Linked DNA regions of Homo sapiens. The protein of the gene in region 1 purifies or fractionates together with the protein of each later gene. This does not show direct contact. Each region holds a gene or a part of one and is shown in the gene's direction. Other genes may lie near its edges. The genes, in order: ZNF843, PACC1 and CELA3A.

What was found.
Region 2: the proteins of ZNF843 (region 1) and PACC1 purify together in Homo sapiens (co-immunoprecipitation; one large-scale study listed by IntAct). This does not show direct contact.
Region 3: the proteins of ZNF843 (region 1) and CELA3A purify together in Homo sapiens (affinity purification with mass spectrometry; one large-scale study listed by BioGRID and IntAct). This does not show direct contact.

What each region holds. Positions count from the first base shown.
Region 1 is NC_000016.10:31,437,351-31,439,931, reverse strand, and holds part of ZNF843 (zinc finger protein 843), read left to right. Parts: intron 1-2,581.
Region 2 is NC_000001.11:212,376,751-212,380,403, reverse strand, and holds part of PACC1 (proton-activated chloride channel), read left to right. Parts: intron 1-366; coding exon 367-509; intron 510-2,697; coding exon 2,698-2,842; intron 2,843-3,519; exon of another isoform or gene 3,520-3,610; intron 3,611-3,653. UniProt on the Homo sapiens protein: Chloride channel gated by pH that facilitates the entry of chloride ions into cells upon exposure to extracellular acidic pH. Involved in acidosis-induced cell death by mediating chloride influx and subsequent cell swelling.
Region 3 is NC_000001.11:22,004,608-22,008,260, forward strand, and holds part of CELA3A (chymotrypsin-like elastase family member 3A preproprotein), read left to right. Parts: intron 1-839; coding exon 840-937; intron 938-1,054; coding exon 1,055-1,189; intron 1,190-2,270; coding exon 2,271-2,407; intron 2,408-2,765; coding exon 2,766-2,908; intron 2,909-3,653. UniProt on the Homo sapiens protein: Efficient protease with alanine specificity but only little elastolytic activity.

The sequences.
Region 1 (2,581 bases):
TACATCTCAGAAGAGGCTTAGCCTATCTGTGCTGACACTTACTGAAGTATAAGTTATATATAAAACACACCCACTTTAAGTGTACAGGTTGCTGGTTTTTGGTGAATGTGTACACGGGCATAACCATCATCACATTCAGGGTGCAGAACTTTGCCGTCACCCTCTCATGCCCCGTGCAGTCAGCTGCTCTCTCCCTGACCCAGCCCCAGAGAACCACTGGTCTACTTTCTGCCCCTATGAGTAAGTTTTGCTTTTTGTAGAAATGGAATTTCACAGAAATTGAATCATATAGTATGTATTCTCTTGTGTCTGGCTTCTCTGGTTTAACATAATTTTGAGATTCATCCATTGCTTGCAGGTAACAGCAGTTCCTCTTTGTTGCTAGTATTCTGTTACATGGGTAAACCACACTTTATTCTTCCACCCATTGATGGACATTTGGATGTTTCTATCTTATGCCTATTATGAATAAAGCTGATATGCACATTTGTGAAAAAGTCTTTGTGTGGACATATGTTTTTATTTTCCTTGAGTAAATCCTAAGAGTAGAATTATTGAGTCATGTGGTAAGTGTACATTTAATTTACTGTTAACCAAAACTGGTTTCCAAAATGCCCAGGCCATTTTATATTTCCCCAGCAATGTGTGAGACTCCATATCCTCAGGCAACAGTTAGCACCTTCAGTCTGCTCGATTTTAGTGGGTGCATAAGGGCACTCCTTGTGGTTTTAATTTGCATTTCTCGGGTGACTGATGATAGCACATCACTTTTTTTGTATCATTATACTTTTAAGTTCTAGGGTACATGTGCACAACGTGCAGGTTTGTTACATATGTATACATGTGCCATGTTGGTGTGCTGCACCCATTAACTCGTCATTTACATTAGGTATATCTGCTAATGCTATCCCTCCCCCCTCCCCCCACCCCACAACAGGCCCCGGTGTGTGATGTCCCCCTTCCTGTGTCCATGTGTTCTCATTGTTCAATTCCCACCTATGAGTGGGAACATGCGGTGTTTATTTTTTTGTCCTTGGGATAGTTTGCTGAGAATGAGCACATCACTTTTAAATGGTAGCTCACTTCTAGGGAAGGAAGGAGAGCGATGAGTCAAAAGAAGTTCCACTGTTTTTGAGCTTAGGTGTCCAAGAGAATAAAACTGGTGCCACCAACAAAAGTGAAATTAGGAGTCAGTGATTTTTTGGCATAGGGGTATTAAATTTGAAGTGATGGCAGGATGTTAAGGGGGAAATAACTGGGTGGCAGCATGCTTTGCAGGCTTGGAGCTCAGTGGGAGGTCAGGTCCTGAGATAAGAGCCAAGTATCCGCTGAGAGGTGAAGCACAAACGGGGAGAGAGAGAGAGATGAGACCCAAGGATCAAGCCAGGGCTCAGAGTGGCCAGAAGCATCTGTTCCCCAGTCCCCATTTCCAAGTAATGGAAAATCCAGACTGACAGGCCTAATAGGCCTAAAAATAGATAAAATTAGCCCACTTATATATGAGCCACTGGAATACTTTCTAGTCCTATTGCAAACTCTACTCTTGGCTACTTTGATTGTTAAAATTGTAAATTAAAAGTTATCTATACCCTTTTTAAAAAAGAGTTTCAATATGGTTTGTGACAATCAGTTAATTATCTTTGTGGCCTGAGGGGCCCCCTTCTTTTAATCACCTTAACCAATAAAGCAATAATGTCTTTCTGAAGTTGATTCTTTTTGATGGTTTGTGTTTGGATGTTCAAGGTTAATGAGGAAATGATCCTTACCACGCTTTTGTAATTTTAATACAGACAGGGTCTTGCTTTGTTGCCCAGGTTAGTCTCCTGGGCTCAAGGATCCTCTGGCCTCAGCCTCCCAAAGTGCTAGGATTATAGGCATGAGCCACTGCGCCCAGCCTCTTGCTACACTTTCATTCAGGATAAAGATGGTAATATCCAAGACTACTGAAAGTCTTATAACCCCAATCCAAATTTTAAAATAAATCTTACTATTAAGAAGCATTGATTGGCCATGTGCAGTGGCTCACACCTGTAATCCCAGCACTTTGGGAGGCTAAGGTGGGTGGATCATGAGGTCAGGAGTTTGAGACCAGCCTGACCAACATGGTGAAATCCTGTCTCTACTAAAATACAAAAAAAAATTAGCCGGCAATGGTGGCAGGCGCCTGTAATCCCAGCTACTCGGGAGGCTGAGGCAGGAGAATCGCTTGAACCCGGGTGGCAGAGGTTGCAGTGAGCCGACATAGCTAGCACCACTGCACTCCAGCCTGGGTGACAGAGCAAGACTCCCTCTCAAAAAAAAAAAAAAAAAAACATTGATTATAGGAGGCCGGGCATGGTAGCTCATGCTTGCAATCCCAGCACTTTGGGTGGCCCAGGTGGGCCAACCGCTTGAGCCCAGGAGTTTGAGAGCAGCTTGGGCAACATGATAAAAACCAGCTTCTACCAAAAAAAAAAAAAAAAATGCTGGGCCTAGTGGTGTGCAACTACAGTCCCAGCTACTTGAGAGACTGAAGCGGGAGGATCACTTGAGCCAGAGAGGCAAAGGTTGCAGTGATCAGAGATCGTACTACTGCATTCCA
Region 2 (3,653 bases), on another chromosome or scaffold:
GTTTCCATAGGACAAATGACATTGGAAACAAAGTTAAAAGAAAAATGACAGACTGGAAGAAAAGATTGGCACACATAACAGATGAAAGTGATCATCCTTGCTAAATTAAGAGCTTCCATAACTCAAAGAACCAATGAGAAAAGTGGACAGAGGATGAGCTGCATTCAGCTCTGGTTGGGCATCATATGGGGAAAACTCCCCAGGAATGAGCATGAGTCCCAGCCCAGTCCTGTTGTTGGCTAGTGGTCCCTTTGGAGACCACTGGGCAAGGAGCTATGGGCTTTCCAGTCAGTACTTCTGCCCTCAGACCCAGAGGCCTCTGTGTACTCTCCCAGGACTGAGACTCTGTCCTTTTTCTCTCTGCAGAAATCTGCCCTGATTGTCCAGGGGCCCCGGGAAGTGAAAAAGCGGGAGCTGGTCTTCCTCCAGTTCCGCCTGAACAAGAGTAGTGAGGACTTCAGCGCCATTGATTACCTCCTCTTCTCTTCTTTCCAGGAGTTCCTGCAAAGGTGGGCTTTTAGAGTTCACAGTGGGCTTACTGTCTACTTTTTATCTTATTCCAGCTGTGTATGTCCCAAGGCTAGAGACGGAGGGGTGAGGGCAGGGAAGGGAAGGGGCATTCTCAGATGACCCACTGGCCCAGGAAGGGACCTCATGAGCTTGGCCGGTCCACTCAACATCTTATCACAAAGTTAAGCAAATCTGGTGTGGAGGAGCATGCTGGCTCTCCATGCACATAGTGCTGGCTGGTTCTAGAGAGATCATTTGGTCTCACCATTGCCTGGGGCTGCTGAGGAGTAGGGGAAGTTGCCTTTGATTTGTAAGTCCCTTTGAGAGCAAGTTCTTGTGTGGTTCCTTGGTTTCCCCCACAGTGTGCACAGGAACCACATCTTGCCCTTAGTGCGGGCTTAATGTATGTTTGCCTGAAATACAGTTGGTCCTTGAACAACTTGGGGTTTGGGGTTACCAAACTTAACCACTCCTGCCTATGCAGCCAAAAATTTGTGTATAACTTTTGACCCCCAAAACTACTAACAGCCTACTGTTGACAGAAGCCTTACCAATAACATAAACAACACATATTGCGTGGTTATATATATCATAGACTGTATTCTTACGATAAAGTAAACTAGAGAAAAAAAATGTTATTAAGAAAATCATGGCCAGGTGTGGTGGCTCACACCTGTAATCCTACCACTTTGGGAGGCCAAGGTGGGCGGATCACGAGGTCAGGAGATCGAGACCATCCTGGCTAACATGGTGAAACCCCATCTCTACTAAAAATACAAAAAATTAGCCAGGCGTGGTAGCGGGCACCTGTAGTCCCAGCTACTCAAGAGGTTGAGGCAGGAGAACCGATTGAACCCAGGAGGCAGAGTTTGCAGTGAGCTGAGATTGCGCCACTGCACTCCAGCCTGGGCAACAGAGCGAGACTCCAAAAAAAAAAAAAAGGAAATCATAAGGAAGAGAAAATATACTTACTATTCATTCAGTGGAAGTGATCATTGTAAAGGCCTTCATCCTCATCGCCTTCATGTTGAGTAGGCTGAGGAGGAGGTTTGGTCTTGCTGTCTCAGGAGTGGCAGAGGCAAAAGAAAATCCGCACGTGAGTGGACCCAGCCAGTTCAAACCTGTGTTGTTCAAGGGTCTACTGCATCTCTGGTATGAGGATATAAGCTCTGCCACCTCTCTTAGTCTTCGATTTACAGTGATGAATGTCCCCTGACCATCAGAAAGTTCTTGTCTGCTCCACACACACTGCTTTGGGGTCACACCGTGGAGCCTAGAGGGCAGGAGAATTTTCTTCATGTGCCTGAGTTGAGAGGGACTCAGTTCCTACCAGGTCCTGCTGAGCCCAGAGGCTCCATTCAGAGCAAGCAGGGAGGCAGCTACAGGGGCAGGGAGGCTGCTCCCCAGCTGGACATGCAGCGAGCTGCCTCCATTCCACACCACCACTGCTTTGTTCTTCCACCCCAGAGCTCGGAGCCTCTGCCTTAGCATTTTCCACCCTTTCTGCCACCTAGAATTCCCTCTCCCTTCCCTGCTTCAAGCTGGCCATCTTGCCTTCCTCCTGGAAGACTTTCCCCGGGATCCCACCCCCACTCCACGCTCCTTTCGTGAGCTTCCTCGGTATGCTGCTGCAGTTTTTACTTGTTTTTATGTTCGCTTTGATTTTGCTGCATCTGCACCGTCTTGGGGCTGATGCTGTAGGTGACCCATCTGGCTGAGACCTCCCCAAGGAACCCTCTTCCCCTCTTTGGGCCTTCCATGGGAGCTGACAGGCTGGTGAGGGCTTCCTCAGGCTCTGCTGAAGTCCAGAGTTCTCTGAGGAGCTGTGAGCGCCATGTTCTGGGGAGCTTCTGCCAACTTCATTGCCGACAGCTTTGGTAGCCATCGATAGGAATGATGGGAGGAGGGAGGAAGATTTCTCCCACTGGGAGCTTCAAGGATCATGTTCCTGCCTTGAGGCCAGTGACTACCCCTCCATTTGGAAACCAAATGGAGAGAAAAGAGGGATGGGCCTTGCTTTTGCTGGTGACTGACAGCCCTGTTGAGGCAATCACAATTTGGAGAGGAGGCAGGGAGTGGGCAGCATCCTGGTTGTGCCAGCAAAGAAACCAGCTTGCAGTGGGGGCTTCGACTCCTGCTGCCAGACCTGCATTGACCTGGATCTTCCTTCTCCTTCCTTCCTCCAAGCCCAAACAGGGTAGGCTTCATGCAGGCCTGTGAGAGTGCCTATTCCAGCTGGAAGTTCTCTGGGGGCTTCCGCACCTGGGTCAAGATGTCACTGGTAAAGACCAAGGAGGAGGATGGGCGGGAAGCAGTGGAGTTCCGGCAGGAGGTAGGTGGCTCTGGGTTTGCTTGAAACTGCTGGTGACTTTTCCACATTCGAGTCTGAGGTGGAGGGAAGCTTTGCAGAGAAGGCTCCTTTGAGCAGGGCCTTAAGGGTGAGTAGGCCTTGGTCAGGATGAGAAGGGACTCCCATGGAGGGCTTCATATGCTATGCCAGGGAGTCTGTGTGTGCTTCTGCAGGCAGCGCACATACCGGCCAGTCCTCACGGAATGCATGTGTGGGGCAGAGATCATTGTGGCTTGCAGAGAGGTCAGTAACTCGCCCAGCTGTGTCTGATGTCTTGCATCTAGCAGCACTTTGAGGGGCTGGCAGTGGCCTAGCAGATTGATTATTTGCAGGGAAGAGAGACTAGACACAGTGGTCCCAAGTGTGCATGTTGATCCTTTTCCTAAGGTCCTCTTCAGCTCTCACAGGTGTCACAGCGAGAGATGCCAGGTGTATCTCCTGGCTGCTAGGCCAGTGGGCTGAAAGCTTTTTGATCAGATTTCCCATTAGTAAAAACTTTTTGATCATATACTCCATATACATATAACTCTGCAGGTGATATAACATACTATTATTGTCTTAGTGTTATATACACTTTAAACATTCAAAAATAGAAATGTTAAAAGGATGAGATAAAAATAAATAGTAAAAAAAGCTAGTCTTTTCTTCTTGTATCCCAGTGGCTCGGGATGCTCATCTGGAGCAGAAGGACACACTCCAGTCAACTAGGCCATCACTGGCCAGAAGTTAGGCCGGAGAAGACTGTCTTGGGTTAGTCTTAAACAGGGCCCTGTCATGAGCCCTAGCTCCTCAG
Region 3 (3,653 bases), on another chromosome or scaffold:
TGACTATTTCCAGGACATCTTTATTACAAAAACAGACCAGAAGCCTGATGTGCCCCACTGTCCACAGTTTGCTAACCCTGGTCTAGATGGAGCTTTTGAAAATCAGAATGTGTAGGAAATGGGAAGAGAGGCAAAGAACTCATCAGGGTGAGCTGTGCTTCAGAAGGCTCAAGAGGCCTTGAAAGAGCTGAGGTTCAAAAGAGTCAGGGGGGCTGGGCGCGGTGGCTCACGCCTGTAATCCCAGCACTTCGGGAGGCCGAGGTGGGCAGATCACCTGAGGTGAGGAGCTCGAGACCAGCCTGGCCAACATGGTGAAACTCCGTGTCTACTAAAAATACAAAATTAGCCAGGCACGACGGCAGGTGCCTGTAATCCCGGTTACTGTGGAGGCTGAGACAGGAGAATCGCTTGAACCCGGGAGGCGGAGGTTGAAATGAGCTGAGATTGCCACCATTGCACTCCAGCCTGGGGAACAAGAGCAAAACTCCATCTCAAAAAAAAAAAAAACTCACAGGGCGAGGGGTGCGTGATAGAACAGAGGGCCTTCAAGGGCTGTTAAGAGACAGAAGGTAGAGAATGTTGGGGTCCCCAGGGAGGTCATAGTGCTGGTGTGGGGAGGCTTTGGAGAATCAGAATGTGACCCCCATGGAAAAGTGATAGGGCCACCACGGGCAGCTGCCCAGGTCGCAGGTTGTATGCTGCATATTTCAGTGGGTGCTCTCGTTTTCCATGTGAATGGCGCCCTCTAGAGTTGCACAGTGCACAACCTATACAGCCATTGGTGGCAACTCTCATGGTGGGGCCCAGCCCACTGAGGCCCTTTCCTCCTGGGCCACCAGGTTTCCCTGCAGTATGAGAAAAGTGGAAGCTTCTACCACACGTGTGGCGGTAGCCTCATCGCCCCCGATTGGGTTGTGACTGCCGGCCACTGCATCTCGTGAGTTCTCTACCCTGTCCCTGCCTGTGGCCCTGGGCAGCGGGGGAGAGTGGGTGATGATGGGGAAGGAGGGAGGTGAGCCAGTCAGGCCCCGACTGACCTCACCTCTGCCTGCAGGAGGGATCTGACCTACCAGGTGGTGTTGGGTGAGTACAACCTTGCTGTGAAGGAGGGCCCCGAGCAGGTGATCCCCATCAACTCTGAGGAGCTGTTTGTGCATCCACTCTGGAACCGCTCGTGTGTGGCCTGTGGGTGAGTGAATGCTCCGGTCTGGAACCCAGGGGCTCCTCTACTTGTCCCTCCATGACCCACAGCCAAGTCTGAGTAGGCTCCAACTCTGAGTAGGGACGTAGGGACATAGGGACATAGGGACAGGGGAGCTGAGTCCAGCAGCCTGTGCCCAGGTCCCACACACTGAGGATTGAAGCCAGCAGAGCCTTTAAGGACCATCACCACCAAACCTGTCTCCCTACAGAGGGGATGGCAGTGTTCAGGGAGGGGCAGGAACTCTGCCAAGGCCACTTGGCTAGTGGCTTCAGAGCTCAGGGTTCCTCTGGCATCCTTCCCCCATATCCGAGGGTTTCTCCATTCAATAGATGGCTCACCCAGTGCATCCTGGGCTCCCAGCACTATGGGCAAAAGGAGGAGCACTGGGCTGAGAGTCAGGCTCTGGCATTAACTCTGTGTATGGCCTGAGCAAGTCACTGGCCTTCTCTGGGCCTTAGTTTTGCCATTTGTCAAAAGGTGACCATGAAGTTGGGCTTCCTGGGTGGTGTGAAGGCCAAGGAGACAATCTTATGCCTTTCAAGTGTATGAAAAAATCTTAACAAATATTAGCCAGGCGTGGTGGCATGAGCCTGTAATCCCAGCTACTGGAAAGGCTGAGGCAGGAGAATCACTTGAACTCGGGAGGCGGAGGCTGCAGTGAGCCAAGATCATGCCACTGCACTCCAGCCTGGGCAACAGAGCGAGACTCTGACTCAAAAATAAATAAATGAATAAATAAAATTCCTCAGCCTTAAGAACGATTTGGGCCAGGTATAGTGGCTCATGCCTGTAATTCCAGCACTTCAGGAGGTGAAAGCAGGAGGATCCCTTGGCCCAGGAGGCTGCAGTGAGCTATGATTGTGACACTGCACTCCAGCCTGGGCAACAGACCGAGACTCTGTCTCAATAATAATAATAATAATAATAATAATGATGATGAAAGAGTGGATTTGGAGGGTAAAGAAGTTGGGGCATCTCAGAGGTGGAATAGCCTGGAGCAACGGCTAGAAGGTAGGACTTGGGCCGGCTGGAGGACCAGGCCCCGTGACTGTTCCCTCCTCCCCAGCAATGACATCGCCCTCATCAAGCTCTCACGCAGCGCCCAGCTGGGAGATGCCGTCCAGCTCGCCTCACTCCCTCCCGCTGGTGACATCCTTCCCAACAAGACACCCTGCTACATCACCGGCTGGGGCCGTCTCTATAGTACGTGCTGACTTCTCTAGCTGGCCACAGAGACAGTGGCAGAAAGACAGGGCCTGGGGGCTGCAGGTTGAAGGTAACACCAAGACCGGACCTTGTACTTTTCTCCCATTTCTCTCCAGCTGCAGCCTTCTTCCATCAACCTCCAAAACACGAATGTGGTCAATTGCACATGTTTTGGTATCTTCTGTGTGCCACGTGCTAGGGATGTAATGGTGCACAAAGCATGCAGGACCATTTAGCGGGTGGGAGGAGAGTCCTCATCAGGGCAGAAGAACTGTGGGCCTTGAATGCCCCCTTCCTCTGGGGCACCTAGCGGTGTGCCCCCAGACCCCTGACTCGGTGCTTTTTATCCTTGCAGCCAATGGGCCACTCCCAGACAAGCTGCAGCAGGCCCGGCTGCCCGTGGTGGACTATAAGCACTGCTCCAGGTGGAACTGGTGGGGTTCCACCGTGAAGAAAACCATGGTGTGTGCTGGAGGGTACATCCGCTCCGGCTGCAACGTGAGTCAGCTCTTACCTGCCCGAGGTGGTGCTGGGTGTGCAGGACCTTGGAATGGGGCCAACTGCCTGGAAGGTGGAGGAAGGATCTTGCCTGCTTGCCCCATTCAGCCTCCAGGCCAGGCAGGACTTGGAGGAAATCAGCGCAGTCCAGACACAGAGCCCAGGCCTGGGAGTCAGGACCCCCGGGTTGCAGTCTCAGCTCACACACTGACATGACTTGGGACAAGTCACTGTGTCTCCCTGGTCCTCAGGCTTCCGCATCAGCACAGCAGGAGATACTGGTCCCATGACCTCTAACGCAGGTCAATTCTGTGGTTCTAAAGTTATAATTAACCATTAAGAATACCATCATTGTTCTGGGCACAGTCCCTCCTGCCTATAATCCAAGTGCTTTGGGAGGCTGAGGTGGGAGGATTGCTTGAGGCTAGGAGTTTGAGACCAGCCTAGGTAATATAGTGAGATGCCCATCTACAGAAAAACTTTTTTTACTTAGTCAGGCATGGTGGCACTCGCCTGTAGTCCCAACTACTTGATAGGCTGAGGTGGGAGGATTGTTTGAGCCTGGGAGTTCAAGCTCACAGTGGCTATGATTTTTGCCACTGCACCCAAGCCTGGCGACACAGCAAGACGTTGTCTCTTTTTTTTTTTTTTTTGAGACAGGATCTTGCTCTGTTGCCCAGGCTGGAGTGCAGTAATGCCATCATAGCCCACTGTAGCCTTGCCCTCCTGGGCTCAAGCAACCCTC